Linked DNA regions of Homo sapiens: region 2 is linked to region 1. A link means that fine-mapping ties the variant in region 1 to the expression of a gene that starts in the linked region. Tissue or cell type: whole blood. Region 1 holds a variant in brackets; the other region holds the start of a gene. All regions are shown on one strand. Distances are between the middles of the regions.

Region 1 (8,106 bases):
AGAGGCTGCAGTGAGCCAAGAGCATGCCACTGCACTCCAGCCTGGGTGACAAAGCAAGACTGTGTCTCAAAAACAAAACAAAAACAAACAAACAAAAAAAGTATGCTGTTTAATTTCCACATATTTTGGGTTTGTAAAAATATCTTGTAATTATTAATTTGTAACTTAATTCCTCTATAAAACTTCTAAAATTTCTCTCTAGGGAGAGAAATCTCCATGATCTTGGGTTAGGCAAAGACTTCTTAGATTTGACACCTAAGGCATTATCCTTAAAGAACAAAAATTGATAAATTGGACTTTATCAGAATTAAAAATATTTGTTCTTCAAAAAGCATTATTAGGAAAATGAGAATCCAAGCCACAAACTGGGAGAAAAATAATTTTCAAATCATATATCTAACAAAGGACTTATATCTAGAATATGTAAAGAATTCTTACAATTCAATAATAGACAAACAGCCCAGTCACAAAAGGAGCAAAGAACTTGAATAGACATTTTACCAAAGAAGGCATAAGATGGCTAAGTACATTTGCATTTGTATACCTTCTTTGGTAAAATGTCTATTATAAACTAAAATTAGTGGCTGATTAATGTTCAACATTATTAATCATTTGGGAAATGCAAGTCAAAACCAAAATGAAATACTACTTCACACTCACCAAGATGGCTAAATAGTAAGAAGGACAATAGGCAATGTTGGAAAGGACATGGGGGAAAGGGAATCTTCCCACATTGCTGGTAGAAAGATAAGAAGGTACATTTGGGAGCATAGTTTGGCAATTTCTTCAAGGGCTAAACATAGATTACCATAGAACCCAGCAATTCCGCTCCTAGGTATATACACAAGAGAAAGGAAAACATGTTCACATAAAAACTTACATGCAAGTGTTTATAGCAGTATTATAATAACTGTAAGTTGGAATTAATTCAGATGTCTATCACCTGACAAGTGGAGAAAGCATGTATATCCATACGATTCCTCAATAAAAAGGAATGGAGTACTGATAACATGCCACAATCCAGATGAATTGGAAAAATATTATGCTAAGTAAAAGAAGCCAAAACTAAAAGGCTATGTATTGTATGACTCCATTTATATGAAATGTTCAGAAAAGGCAAATCCATAGAGATAGTAGCTTACTGGTTGCCTAGGGCTGAGGGTGGGAATGGAGCGTGACTGTTAAGTGGGCATGGGGTTTCTATTGGAGCTGATGGATATGCTCTGAAACTAACTTGAATGATGGCTGCACAGTCTTCTTAAATGTATTTAGACTTGTTTTATGGCCCAGCACAGGCATATATCTTGCTGAACATACCTTTGGAATTTTAGGCTTTAATATCCTCTCTCTGGCTGCATGTTTCTATGCACCAAACTCTCATGCCTACCAACCTTGCTCTTAAATCTTTTTTTTTATTTTTTTGAGACAGTCTTGCTCTTGTCACCCAGGCTGGAGTGCAATGGCACAATCTCGGCTCACTGCAACCTCCGCCTCCTGGGTTCAAGTGATCCTCCTGTCTCAGCCTCTCGAGTAGCTGGGATTACAGGCACCCCCCACCACACTTGGCTGATTTTTGTGTTTTTAGTAGAGATGGGGTTTCACCGTGTTGGCCAGGCTGGTCTTGAACTCCTGACCTCGTGGTCCACCTGCCTTGGCCTCCCGAAGTGCTGGGATTACAGGCATGAACCACTGCACCCGGCCTTAAATCTTATTAATGACCTGAAACATTCCACCATTAAGGCTGCAGTTCTTCCTCTACCAAGCCTAGGCCTTACCACAATCTTTTTTATTTATTTATTTATTTATTTATTTATTTATTTTTTAAGATGGAGTTTCATTCTTGTTGCCCAGGCTGGAGTACAGTGGCACAATCTTGGCTCACTGCAACCTCCGCCTCCCAGGTTCAAGCGATTCTCCTGCCTCAGCCTCCCATGTAGCTGGGATTACAGGCATGCACCACCACGCCTGGCTAATTTTGTATTTTTAGTAGAGACGGGGTTTCTCCATGTTGGTCAGGCCAGTCTCAAACTCCCGACGTCAGGTGATCTGCCTGCCTCGGCCTCCCAGAGTGCTGGGATTACAGGCGTGAACCACTGCGCCCGGCCACCACGATCTTTTTTTAAGAGTCATCAGTCCACCTGCCCCCTTGCCCCTTTGGCCTTCTACTCTGCCTCCTTCATTCCTCCTCCATGTAGAATGGATCCACTACTGGTGTCTCTGCTGGTTCACCAGTCACTGAGCACAGCTAAGGGACTTCTCAGCGCATTCATCGTGGCTACCATCCCCTCATTGTTGCCAGCCTCCAGAAGCCCTCAGATTTGCCCAGCAGTCCTTGGTCTCTCTCTGCTCCTTTCCCCCACTGGCCTTTTCAACCTTCAGCACCCTCCTTAAGCCACCTGACTCTCCACCCTCTCCACTGAAGACCTCATCCTCCTTGACTGCTATCAGGTGTAACTCCTTTGTTCCCTCAGCTTCCTGTCAGACTTATCTCTCTGCCTCCAACCTCATTTCCTGCCCAGTGGTATCTAGGAGGAAGTCTGAATTCTGAATCTCCTCCCCACCTTCTTCCTTCAGGGCAAGATCCTGTTCTCATATTTCCTCTACCTGCATTTTGTCAGCCTCTCCATCTTTCTGCCGAGTCCCATTTTTCAGCCAAAAAGTGGTAACTAGGAGCTCTAGGACCTAAACACAAAGAAAGCCCTCCCTGGATCTTCCCCCTTTAGCTAGCAAGTTCTTGTTCCCTCGATCCCTCTTTTTCTCCCCTCCTAATGCAGTAGAGACCAATGGAAAAGTGTGGGATGTGTTGGAGGTCAGAGGGAGGTTCATCTTGGCCAAGTCTTAAAGGTGTCACACGCAAGAGTTACTGACCCAGGCGTTCTGCTCAACGCTTTATAGACACTATCTCCGTAGCCATCAAAAGAGGCACCTGTGGTAGATGGATCATTATCTCCAGTTTGCAGATGAGTAGCTGGAGGCTTAGATAGCTAAGTAACTTGTACGAGGTACAGAAGTGCTCAGTGGCACATCTACCTGAGCCCCAGCCGTGTCTTGAAGGCCCATGTGAAAAAGCAGGCAGCATTGAGAACCGGTGAGGAACTCATACTCATTATCTAGGCTGGGGCTCTTTACTTATTTGGTCAGTCTGATGAATGCTCTGCATCTCCAGGCTTGAAAGTACATCTCCACACAGTATTTGTGAATGTGTCAAAGGGTTCAGACCCCCAAAAGCCCATCTAATCCATATGTCCACTCAAACACTTGTACACAACTGTTCATTGCACCGTTATCCATAATTGCCAAAAGGTGGAAACAGCCCAAATGTCCATCAGCTGAGGAATGAATAAACGAAATGTAGTACATCCATACAATGGAATATGATTCAGCAATAAAAAGAAATGAAGTATTGATACATGTTACAACATGGAAGAATTTTGAAAACATTAGGCTAATGAAAGACGCCAGTCACAAAGGACTGTATGTTGCATGATTCCATTTACATGAAATGTCCGGAACAGGCAAATTCATATAGACAGGAAGATCTGTGATTGCCTAGAGCAGGGAAAAGAGAGTGTTGGTTGGATGGGAAGAGAATGTTAAAGGGTACAGGGCTTCTTAACGGAGTGACGAAATGTTCTATAATTGACTTTGGTAATGGTTGTGCAGCTCTGTAGTATACTAAAGACTGCTGAATTGTATGGTATATGAATTCTATGTCAATAAAGTGCCACACACAAGGCCCATCCAAGAAGTTTGTGGACTTTGGACTGAATGCGTGTGAAGGTCCAAGGGTACACACACATCCTACCTAACACAGAACCAATGTGGTTTCTGTTTTCTGGTGCACAGTGGTCCCTGCTGCTGGGGACAGTCCCAGGCCAGCTCTGGGGCTTCTAAATGATCAGCCACCTCAGAACAGGCAGATCCCACTCCCACACTGAGTGCTAAGCTCTGACATTTGAAAGAATGAGCACGTTAGCACATGGTTTGAATGCAGGGAGCTGGCAGTTGCGGTGTGGGGTTGGACAAAATGATCCCTGAAGCCCCAGCTGTTTCTAAGGCTGTGCACTAACCCCCACATCCTTCATCAGGAGAGGCCCTTGTCAAAGGCCCTGGCACAGGACTCTATGCTCTTCCTATTCATTTTACTGTAAAGAAACTACCTTGATTTAGAGAGCAAAGTCACTGATAAGGGCGATTCATAAGATTAAAAAATCACTTTTGTTTACACTGGCTTTACTTGAGTCGGATGTGGCTTTCTGGTTAATGCCAGATGTGAATGAATATCAACTGGGACTTCAGTAGAAAGGGGTCAGGCATGTTCTGCTCTGTCCAGCAGACACAGGGCAATGCTTTGACCTCACTGAGTTCTTATCTGACTGGAAAGTCCATTAGATAGGAAGCGTTCTTCTCCAGTGCTTTCCACAATATGTCCTGTATGCCAGTGGTCCCCAACCTTGTTGGTATCAGGGACTAGTTTCGTGGAAGACACTGTTTCCATGGACTGTGTGGTCAGGGGTGGGGGGGTGGAAATGGTTTTGGGATGAAACTGTTCCACCTCAAATCATCAGGCATTAGTTAGATTCTCATAAGGAGTGCACAGCCTATATCCCTCGCGTGCGCAGTTCACAATAGGGTTCCTGCTCCTATGAGAATCTGATGCTGCTGCCGATCTGACAGGAGGTGGCGCTCAGGCAGTAATGCTCGCTCACCTCTCACTGTGCGGCCCGGTTCCTAACAGGCCGCAGACCAGTCTGTGGCCTGGGGTTTGGGGA[C/A]CCCTGCTATATGCCAAACCTGAAATGTCATGTTCTGCCACTGCAGCAGTGCTTGTGCTATTTATCTCTCTTTCAGCTGGGTGTGGATAAGTCTCCTGTCAATATCCTATGCAGCCTTCAACATTTTGTGGTAGGTTTAGGTGCATGACAGAGCATGGTGTGAGTGGGATAGTGTCCATTTTTCCTTAACCAAAATTATGCTTTGAAGAGTCAAGAATCAAAATAGAATACTGATGAAAAGTAATTCTGTATTTTAAAGATAAATTGTCCCACCTTCAAGATGTAAAATAACTATGAAATAAAACAATGTATGATAAACGGTTGAAAGAAATTCCTTCTTTTAACTGTTTGTTGCATCTTGCTTTTGAAATTTCCTGGCCGACGCGATGGCTCACACCTGTAATCCTAGCCCTTTGGGAGACCGAGGTGGTAGGATCACTTGAGCTCAGGGGTTTGAGACCAGCCTAGGCAACTTAATAAGACCTCATCTCTACAAAAAAAATTTTTGAATTAGCTGGGCTTGGTGGCATGCACCTGTAGTCCCAGCTACTTGGTGGGAGATGGGAGGATTGCTTGAGCCCAGCAAATCAAGGCTGCACTGAGACATGATTATGCCAGAAAAGAGTATGTAAAACTTTTAAAACCTTATCAGTGTTAGTCACTTGGTCTCAATCCATTTGGAGAGACAGAGGTATAGAAAGAGCCCAAGAGGATTATAAGAGTCTGTAAGAGATATGTAAACCATGCAGTTGGGCCTTGGAGAGGAAGAAATTATAAGTGCTTAAGATTGCTGGGAAAGGTCTGGTCTTCCTAGTGGGAAGGATATTTTGTGCAGAGGGATTGATATTTTTCAAGGGAATAGTATAGTAAGAAATATATTTGGTCTTTGTCCCTGGTTCCAGGGCCCTAAAACCCTTGGAATTTTCTGAGTGGTAGGAGTGTCTTTTGTTATTCATAACTAGCCTCTTTCAATCCCACCTGGGTTTGTGCTAATGAGGCGACTTAGGATGGAGCCCCTAGATAACCATAGGATAGTTACAAGGGCATGATGGCACCTGCAGTCCCAGCTACTTGGTGAGAGGTGGGGGGATTGCTTCTCCTGACTTGCGTGCCCAAACTTCTCCTGGTTTTCTTCCCTCTCTTTGCTCCTTCTCAGGCTTCTCTGTCAGCTTCTATGTTGCAGTCCTCAGGACTTGGTCCTGGGCTCTCTTCTTACACTTTTGGGGATTGTCCTCACAGATGTGCTGGACATGCTTACATTTCCTTTTCCAGCTCAGCTCTTACAAGGCTCTGGAGCCCACCTTTGGGGGTCTCATAGGCACCTCCAGCCTGATAGGTATAAAACAGAACTCTCTCCCTGTTACCCCTGAAAGCTACTCTTCTGCTGGAGAAGTGGTCCAGAGAGAAGGAACAGAGCTGGACTTGAGTGTGGCAGTAGGGAGGGAGGGCGGTCCAGCTTCAGGAAATAGTAATAGTACCAGCCACATCTGAGAGCTTACCATGTGCTGGCTACAGTACTGAGTGCTCACAGGTGTCTTCTCACCCAGCTGTTCTCAGCAATCCTGAGAAAGGCACAGACATGGCTGAGGAAGCCCCAGTGGGATTTGGTGATTGATCAGTGAAAGTGGGACTGACTAAGTAGTGGATGGCTCTACTATTTTTAAATTGAGTTTTTAAACGTCACTCACTTTCCTGAAAAGTAGCATGCTTAGGCACCTTCTGACCATGGAGATGTGTATCAGTTAGCTTCTGCTGCATAACGAGCCACCCAAAACTTAGTGGATTAAAACGACAACAGTTTATTTAGTTCACGATTTTGAGTATTGGCAGACCAAGTAGTGGTTTTGCTGGTCTCAGCTGGGCATGACCACCTGGGTGTTAGCCATCTGTCAGCTGAGGCAACAGAGAAGATGAGACCATCTCTCTTTCATCATCCAGCAAGCTAGCCTAGGCTTGTTCACATGACTAGCAGGGTTCACACGACTGAGCAGGGTTCAAAGAAAGAATGCAAATGCGCAAGGCTCCTTAAGGCCAAAGTCAGGATTCACATGTCACTTCTTCCACGTTGTTTGGCCAAAATATGTCACTAGACCAGCCAGATCCAAGGAATGGAGAAACATGTTCTACCCCTTTTTTTTTTTGAAATGGAGTCTCACTCTGTTGCCCAAGCTGGAGTGCAGCGACACGATCTCAGCTCATTGCAACCTCCGCCTCCCAGGTTCAAGCGATTCTCCTGCCTCAGCCTCCTGAGTAGCTGGGATTACAGGTGCACACCACCATACCTGGCTGATTTTTGTATTTTTAGTAGAGATGGGGTTTCACCATGTAGGCCAGGCTGGTCTGGAACTCCTGACCTCAGGTGATCCACCCACCTTGGCCTCCCAAAGTGCTGGGATTACAGGAGTGAGCCACCATGCCCAGACAGATTCTACTTCTTGATAGAGGGACCCACTAATAATTGGGGCCATCTGTTCAATATCCCACAGGTCTTAACACTATTGGACCCTACTTTCATCCTAAATTTGATGTGCTTGTTAAACTTCTTTTTTGTCTAATTTGCAGTTATGCTTACCTCCTACAAGACCTACTATTTCCGTCTAATTCACTGTTTCCAGTTGCACAAGTCCCGTGAACTTTGAAACTAGACCATCAGACTACTCTCAACAAATATTATGTTAATTTAGCAACAAAACTTGTTAGAACTTTTGTAAATGGGTAAATAGGCTAGAAGTGAAAGAAGGTCTTCTTCAATTTTTAGGTTGTGAACTTTATAACAAATATGACATGAGGCAGTAGTTTTTGCTTATCAGTTCCTAGCTTGGTTCCAGATACGTGAGGTGGTTTGACGACTGTTGTTAGGTAAGCTATTGTATTAAAAAGGTCTAGCTATGGTGGAACTGTTGGAAGTTGAGAAGGAAAAAGAATTTTTATTTGGGATTTGATGAGAAGTGATTTATCTTTTATGCTGTTATTTTATGCATTTGATGGCTTCAGTTCTATTTGGACCTGTCCCAAAATATAGAGAAACCATAAAGTTATTTAATTTTATTACTTTAAGACTGAGGAGGAAGCAAAAAAGTGTGATTTGCGTCAGCTGCAGAGCCTTTTGGGGTTCTGAAGGAAGGGGAGAATTAATCTTCTGTGTATTTCATTGAGATCTATTTAACCTCTTATTTCTAAGCAAGCCTTGTAAGAGGCTTTTACCTTTTTTTCTTTTCAATTCTCCTCTTTTTCTTCTCTTTCTCCCAGGTAAGCATCACAGTGATTCATGAGTTCGGTGTGTGAGAGCCTTTAACCTTGGGAACTGGACCTTTGTCTTTCCCATTTTAAGTCC
Region 2 (8,103 bases), 90 kb before region 1:
CCATCTCTACTAAAATACGAAAAAATCAGCCTGGCATGGTGGTGTGAGCCTGTAGTCCCAGCTACTCAGGAGGCCGAGGTTTAATTGCGAGAACCCAGGAGGTGGAGGTTGCAGTGAGCCAAGATCATGCCACTGCGCTCCAGTCTGGGCGACAAAGTGAAACTCTGTCTCAAAAACAAACAAACAAAAACTACTAGAGGCCAGGCGTGGTGGCTCACGCCTGTAATCCCAGCACTTTGGGAGGCCGAGGCAGGTGGATCACCTGAGGTCAGGAGTTTGAGACCAGCCTGACCAACATGGAGAAACCCCATCTCTACTGAAAATATAAAAGTAGCGGGGCATGGTGGCACATGCCTGTAATCCCAGCTACTCAGGAGGCTGAGGCAGGAGAATCGCTTGAATCCAGGAGGCAGAGGTTGCAGTGAGCCAAGATCGTGCCATTGCACTCCAGCCTGGGCAATAAAAGCGAAACTCTGTCTAAAAAAATAAAAATAAAACATTACTAGAACAATGAAATAAAAATAGATGCGTAATGATTTTGTTCATTATTAGATTCAACAGATAGACTTACTTTCTCAAATTGCTGCAAGTTTCTAAGTGCCTAGGCTGAATTTCTGTACTTATTGCACAGCACTGGTCTAAGGATCAGACTCTGAGAAGTATTAGTCTATATTAGAGCATGTACCATGTTTAGAGATGAGTGCCTGCAGGGTGACAGCCTTCTCATGGTCCCTTCATATTCTCCAGTATGCAGGGGGCTTTGCATCCAGCACACTCTGTCTGTGCATTTAAATGGGAACCAAACAGTACACTATGAGCAGAAGCATAGCCTTGTGAAAATAACTCAGGCCCTAACGTCAGGCAATGTAACTTTAGAGACTCTACTGCTCCCCAGCTCTGTGGCTACTGGCAAGTCATTTAACTCCTCTGGGTCTCAGCTTTCTCATCTGTGAAATGTGGATAAGAGCATGCAGCTCGGATTGGGAGGAATAGTGACACATACTGGTAAAGCATTCAGCACAACAATGGCTATTACTACTATTGCCATTTCAACTACAAACATAGTCAAATACTAAAAATCTCAGAAACAATCTACAATCTATATTCCTTTGGCAAGCTTATACTGTAAAGGGCTAGAACATAAATATATTCAGTTTTGTAGGTCCTAAGATCTGTGTTGCAACTACTCCATTCTACCGTTGTAGCGTGAAAGCAACCATATGCAATATGCAGAGGATTATAGGTGGCTGTGTTCTAAGAAAACTATTTATGTGTAATCTTGGCACTTTGGCAGCCAAAGTGGGCAGATTACTTGAGGCCAGGAGTTCAAGACCAACCCTGGCAACAAGGCAAGATCTTGTCTTTAGAAAAAAAAAAATTATTCAGGCATGGTGGCACTCGCCTGTAGTCCCAGCTACTTAGCTACTCAGGAGGCCGACATGGGACGACTGCTTCAGCTCAGGAGTTCAAGGCTGCTGTGAGCTATGATTGCACCACTGCACTCCAGCCTGGGTGACAGAGCAAGACTGTGTCTAAAAAAACAAAACAAAACAAAAAAAACAAAAACCAACCCCACAAAACTTTATTTATGGACACTGACACAGGAAACTTACAACATTTTCAAATGTCATAAAATATTATTCTTTTGATTTTTTTTCATTCATTTAAAAATGTAAAAACCATTTTTAGGTGGCAGGCCATAGAAAAACTGGCAGCAAATTGTGCCGATTCTTAGTAAAAAGAATTTTAAAAAGAAAAAGAAAAACAGGCAGCAGGCCAGATTTGATCCTCTGCCCTTAGTTTGCCAACTCCTGCTCTAAACCCTTTCTACCTCAGTTCAGTTAAAAATACCTATTGCATATGATAACCCTGAGTGTACAGAGTAGGAAAGAAGGTAGAAGAAGTTGAATCTGCCATGTGTTAAGGATTTTTGTTTTGTTTTGTTTTTAAACTTCGTTCTGCAATAATTTCAGGCTTAGAAACAAAAAGTTGAAAAAAAGAGTAAAAATAATTCCTTCATTGATTTTCCAAATGTTAACATTTTACCACATTTGCTTTTCTTTCTCACGTTCTTTTCATGCCTGGAATACCATTTCTCTCCCTCTCTCTCTCTCTCTTTCTCTCTCTCTCCATTTTTTTTTGTGAACTGTTTGAGAATCAGTTGCAAAGATGATGCCCTTTTGTTTCCTAAAAAACAAGGATGTTCTTTTATATAACCATTACCAAAATTACCATTACCGTTACCCAAATCAATACACTAATACAAAACTATTATTTAATATTTAGACCGTGTACCATTATCAAAATCAGAAAGTTAACATTGATGCGGCCGGGCACAGTGGCTCATGCCTGTAATCCCAGCACTTTGGGAGGCCGAGGTGGGCAAATCACTTGAGGTCAAGAGCTCCAGACCAGCCTGGCTAACATGGTGATACCCCATCTCTACTAAAAATACAAAAATTAGCCAAGCCTAGTGGTGGGTGCCTGTAATCCCAGCTACTTTGGAGGCTGAGGTGGGAGAATCACTTGAACCTGGGAGGCGGAGGTTGCAGTGAGCCGAGATTGTGCCACTGCACTCCAGCCTGGGTGACAGAGTGAGACTCTGTCCCCCCACCCCCCCAAAAAGGAAATTAACATTGATGCATGGTACTAATCTAACCTACAAGTCTAATTCTGATTTCATCAACTGTCCCACTAACATCCTGTATATACCAAGCTTCTTATCGTCATCATCTCTGGTAATTTCCCCAATTATCCAGTGAATTTGATATTATTAGCCCTGCTTTACCAACAAAGAAACTAAGCTCAGAGAGGTTAAGTAATTTGCCCACAGTTACACAGACAGTAAGTGGCAGAGCTGGAATTCCAACTCAAGTGTACTTCCTCCAGAGCCCTTGTTCTTTAATACTGAACTAGAATTGCAGAGCTTGGAAAGGACTTCACAGTGCAAGGACACGGAATTGGTACTACAGGCATGAAAAGAAGCCAGGCACGGTGGCTCATGTCTGTAATTCCAGCATTTTGGGAGTTCCAGGCAGGTAGATTGCTTGATCCCAGAACTTCAAGACCTGCCTGGGAAACGTGGTGAGACCCTGTCTCTACAAAAAATACAAAAATTAGCCGGGTGTGGTGGCGCACGCCTGTAGTCCCAGCCACTTGGTAGGCTGAGACGGGAGAATTGCTTGAGCCCAGGAGGCCAAAGCTGCAGTAAGCCGTGATTGCGCCCCACTCCAGCCTGGGTGACAGAGTGAGACCCTGTCTCAAAAAACACAAAAACAAAACAAAAAAACAACCCCCCAAACCAAAAAACAAAAACCTAAGAAAAGCCAGTAACTGATACTTTCTCAATCTCTCAATGAAATGTCCTTTCTGATACTTTCTCAATCTCTCAAGGACATGTCCGGTAGGAAAGGAGAAAGGAGTGAACAAATAGAATTTTGGCTACTTTGTTATACAATGTAAAAAGGCTTTTTGGAACACCAAGGCATAAACTAAGGTTATTTTAAAAAAGAAAATTTTTTTTTGATACGGAATTTCGCTCTTATTGCCCAGGCTGGAGCGCAATGGCTCGATCTCGGTTTACTGCAACCTCCACCTCCCGGGTTCAAGCGATTCTCCTGTCTCAGCCTCCTCAGTAGCTGGGATTACAGGCGCCTGCCACCACGCCCGGCTAATTTTTGTATTTTTAGTAGAGACGGGGTTTCATCATACTGGTCAGGCTGGTCTGGAACTCCTGACCTCAGGCGATCCGCCCGCCTCGGCCTCCCAAAGTGCTGGGATTACAGGCGTGAGCAGGATTTTCATTCTAACAAGTTCCAGGTGAGTTGATACAGTGGCTCCAGGGACCGACCACATTTTGCTAACCCCCGGCTTAGAGTTATTCAAAGAGCCCGTATATGAGACGCGGATTCCATCTAGGGCGTTTAGGTTTAATGATTAACAATTTCCCTCTTCTGCTCTCTCAAGGCAGCCAGGGAACAGGGAGACCATGATTCATGTCCAATCCCCGAGGCGCGTTATCAAGCTGCTGAAAGCAGGCCCTCCGGACTGCAGTTCCAAAGGGTCCCTTCCCAGGGAAGACGCCTGCAAAACCCAGATAGTACTATCCTGGAGTCACGCGGCGGCGCGCAGCCTCCTAGCCGCCCCCACCCGCCCGGCTCGGCCACAGCGGGGCGGGGCGCGGGGCTGAGCAGGCGCGAGGGCTGGCTGCTGGGCCGACGAGGGGCGGTGCCAGGCCGTGGGTCCTTAGTCAAGTGACGCGAAGCGGCCGGCCTGGGCGCCGACTGCAGAGCCGGGAGGCTGGTGGTCATGCCGGGGTTCCTGGTTCGCATCCTCCCTCTGTTGCTGGTTCTGCTGCTTCTGGGCCCTACGCGCGGCTTGCGCGTAAGTCTGCGGGACCCGGGTACGGGGAGGCATTGCTAGGGGACAGGCTGGCGGGGAACCGGGCTGGGGTCGCAGCCACCCGCGGTCCCGCAGGGCGGGGAGCCTGAGCCCCGAAGTGCCCCCCAGCAGGCTCGCGGCCGGCGGAACGCAGGCAGTGGACCGGCCTTCCCGTCGGGGGCGGGCCGGGCGGGGCGCGCGTCCTTCCAGGCAGCTCGGTCGCTTGTGCGTTCCGCTCCGGCCGCCCTTTGCGCTTGGATCCACTTCCCCATCTGTAACGAGGTGTTGAGACGAGGTGCGTGTAAACATTTCCTAAGTTGGCTTTCCGGGAGGGGATTCCAAGTTGCGCGGGTTAGAGGGTGCCTCCGGCTCTGGTTTGGGGCGCCCTCGCTTTCCCAGTTGGTGCTCTGCGGAGCGCTCCGGAAGGAGAAAAATGGGGTCAGGAGAGGCCCTTGCAGTGGGAACATTGGGTTATTTCCCCTCTGGGTGCTCTCCCTCTTCGTGCATCTTGTTCCTTTCTCACCACTCCCCGTCGCCTGCCCTTTGGCTTGGGTTTTTCTTTGTATTTGTGGGACCGTTTTCCTTCGGCGTTTGGGGGTCCAGGTTGAGGGGGGGAATAGGCAGGCTGCCGGGGGATGCCATCGTTGATCGGGGCAGGGCTGGCGAGGCGAATAGGTGAGGTGCGGGGCGTGCACAGTTGGTGGGAGAGGAAGGACAGCTTCACTCGCTGCGTCCGAGCTGAGGCGACTGGCTGAGGGGCTCCAAAGCGCTGCCTGGGGAGGTTTGCATCACACCTGCGGAAAGGAGAGTGGGTAGTTGCAAGCTGCTCCTCTGCACGTTCCGCGGACCAACTTTGGTTCCTCCAGGGTGTAGGTGGGCTGAGCCTGCAGTATGCTTTAAGTAAGAGCTGGTAGCATTTGACACCGTTGACTTGTAAGTTACACCCTTTAATAACGCTTTCAATAACGTGCCTAGGGCAGAGAAAAGTGGTACATTTATCTACAACCAAGATTGAACATCTTAAGTATTTGGAAAACAGCTGCTGAAAATGTTTTCATTTTGGGAAAAAGTCAGCACAGATTATTTGCTGCTCCCTCTTCACCCCGTCTGTGGTTCCCCTACCCCAGTATGTAGACAGAGTTTTCTTGTCCAGAAGGCCCGTAGGACCTTAGGAGTCAGAGCTAGCCAGCTGTGAGAACCACTGGGGAAGGTGGAACTGGGGCACAGTTCAGGAGAACAGTGGCAGGGTAAGGGGCTAGGGGAAAGGCAGATCTTAACCAGTATCTGGGAGTGGGGGTAGGGAGAGAGAGAAGGATTTATGAACCAGGAACAGGTGGACAGGGTCAATCTGTCTGATGTGAGCTCATCAGTCTTGTGCAGCGTCATTGGGTCAGGGTGGATGCCCTGTGGCTGCCATACCTGAGGCCCACACAGGGAGGCTGGCATCACCCCAGGAATTCTCATTTCAGGTGCCTAGGTGTCCCTCTTGGGCTTCTGTGCCCACAGCTAAAGAAAGATACCAGCAGTCTAGCTTTCCATTATCTCCTTGTTTACATTTCTTTAGGGTTCACGCCATTCTCCTGCCTCAGCCTCCCGAGTAGCTGGGACTACAGGCGCCCGCCATCACACCCGACTAATTTTTTTCTTTTTTTGTATTTTTAGTAGAGACGGGGTTTCACCATGTTAGCCAGGATGGTCTCGATCTCCTGACCTCGTGACCCAGCGGTTCTCAAATTTTAACTAAATTTTAGCTGTCCTAGAAATTAAGAGAATATTCCTTTTTTTTTTTTTTTTTTTTTTTTTGAGACAGAGTCTCGCTCTTTTGCCCAGGCTGGAGTGCAGTGGCACGATCTTGGCTCACTACAACTTCCACCTCCCAGGTTCAAGTGATTCTCCTGCCTCAGCCTCCCGAGTAGCTGGGATTACATGCATCCACCACCATGCCTGGCTAATTTTTGAATTTTTAGTAGAGACAGGGTTTTACCATGTTGGCCAGGCTGGTCTTGAACTCCTGACCTCAGGTAATCTGCCTGCCTCGGCCTCCCAAAGTGCTGGAATTATAGGCGTCAGCCACTGTGCCCAGCCCTAGAGAATATTTTAAACTATTTGTTAAGAAATACTACATCATTACACGTTAATAAACAATATATATATTTGAAAAACAATAGTATTTCTCCCCAAATTTTAGGGTGAAGAGTTGCACTGTTTTACATTTCTGCAAATCTCTTTCAATGTCTCTTAATAGAAGACAGTCAAATTTTCATGTTTATTTCTGCATTAAATCTGTTGCCATATCACATGTCACATAGCCTCTGGAAGACTCCACCCCCTCAGGACAGAGTGAGAATGGAAAAGGCAGTAATGGCTTGGAATTATAATAAAAATAGTTTTGACTAATTGGACCCCTGAAGGGCTCTCTCCAGACCACACTTTGAATACCGCTGATTTGGAATGTTTTTATAAAACAAGTACATGCTTACTGTAGAGAAACTTTAAACGTATAGAACATGTGGTAAGAAAATGAAAACTGCCCATCATGTCACAATGCTGTGAGTTTCTTTTTGAATAATAAAGTATAGCTAGCAACTGACTGGTATTTGAGTAGCTTGGATTCAAGGTGGGTTGGGCAGATGTAAGTGGCCTTTGAGTTTTGAATGGGTACAAGGACACTCTAATATCCCACAAAGCTGATGCTGGTTCCTGGTTGCAGGCGGAGTTGACCTGGAAACCTCTCCTTGGCCACTGTCCTTTCTAAGGAACTCATTTCCAGAGTCCACCAGCACAGAACTGGTGGGGGAGCCTACTAGGAGCAGAGAAAATGGCCATCTTCAGGCAGCTGTCCCTAGGCGCGAAGGCCACCCTGGCTGCTGTCACTGTCTTCGTGTCCATGATCGCCTCCCGCTCGTATCTGGCAGAGAGCCTTGAGCTCAGGGCCTGGCGTTGGCTGCTTCGCTTGCAGCTTGCCCTGTTTGTCAACTCGCTCTTGCTCATTGGCTCCCTCTACATTTGGCGCAGCACAGTGAGCAACCTCTGCCACTCCCCAGCTGCAGAGTCAACCTGTTTTCAGCTTTGGAAGGTGGTGGTTCTGGCATTTCTGGCCCTGGCCCATTCCAGTTTCTTTACCATGTTCTTTTTAGTGGCCGAAGAGCCCTATCTCTTTTCCTTGGCGGCCTACTCCTGCCTGGGTGCTTACATCATCATGCTCTTCTTCCTCTTCATCCTCAGCGGCATGGAGCAGGCCTACCAGCTCTTGGCCTGGCGCAGTGGTAGGGTCGTGGGCAGCCTTGAGAAGACAAGGAAGCTCGTGCTCAGGCCTGCCCTGGCAGTGGGAGTGACTGCTGTGCTCAGCGTGGCCGGGATTCTGAATGCCGCGCAGCCCCCGGCTGTGAAAACTGTGGAGGTGCCCATCCATCAGCTGCCTGCCTCAATGAACAACCTCAAGATCGTGCTCCTCTCAGACATTCACTTGGGCCCCACAGTGGGCAGGACCAAGATGGAAATGTTTGTGAGGATGGTGAATGTGCTGGAACCAGACATCACGGTGATTGTGGGTGACCTCTCCGACTCAGAAGCCTCGGTCCTGCGGACGGCTGTCGCTCCTCTGGGCCAGCTTCATTCACATCTCGGTGCCTACTTCGTCACAGGCAATCATGAGTACTACACGTCAGATGTCAGCAACTGGTTTGCACTTCTGGAATCCCTGCATGTCCAGCCTCTTCATAA

The links. PIP is the estimated chance that this variant, and not a neighbour inherited with it, causes the effect.
Region 2: it holds the start of GLB1, and the variant in region 1 is fine-mapped to the expression of GLB1 in whole blood (TOPMed, PIP 0.95).

Annotation. Positions count from the first base shown.
Region 1 is chr3:33,002,837-33,010,942 of GRCh38, reverse strand. All of the region lies in intron 15 of GLB1 (galactosidase beta 1), which reads left to right. Among named protein-coding and RNA genes, the nearest start is that of CCR4, 55 kb to the right of the region's middle. The variant C/A (reference allele first, on the strand shown) is at 4,773.
Region 2 is chr3:33,093,291-33,101,393 of GRCh38, reverse strand. It overlaps GLB1 (galactosidase beta 1), which reads left to right and starts at 4,248. Exons shown (of 16, transcript NM_000404.4): 1 at 4,248-4,383. The coding sequence starts at 4,309. It overlaps TMPPE (transmembrane protein with metallophosphoesterase domain), which reads left to right and starts at 4,248. Exons shown (of 2, transcript NM_001039770.3): 1 at 4,248-4,675; 2 at 7,091-8,103. The coding sequence starts at 7,199. RefSeq lists a silencer at 4,051-4,660.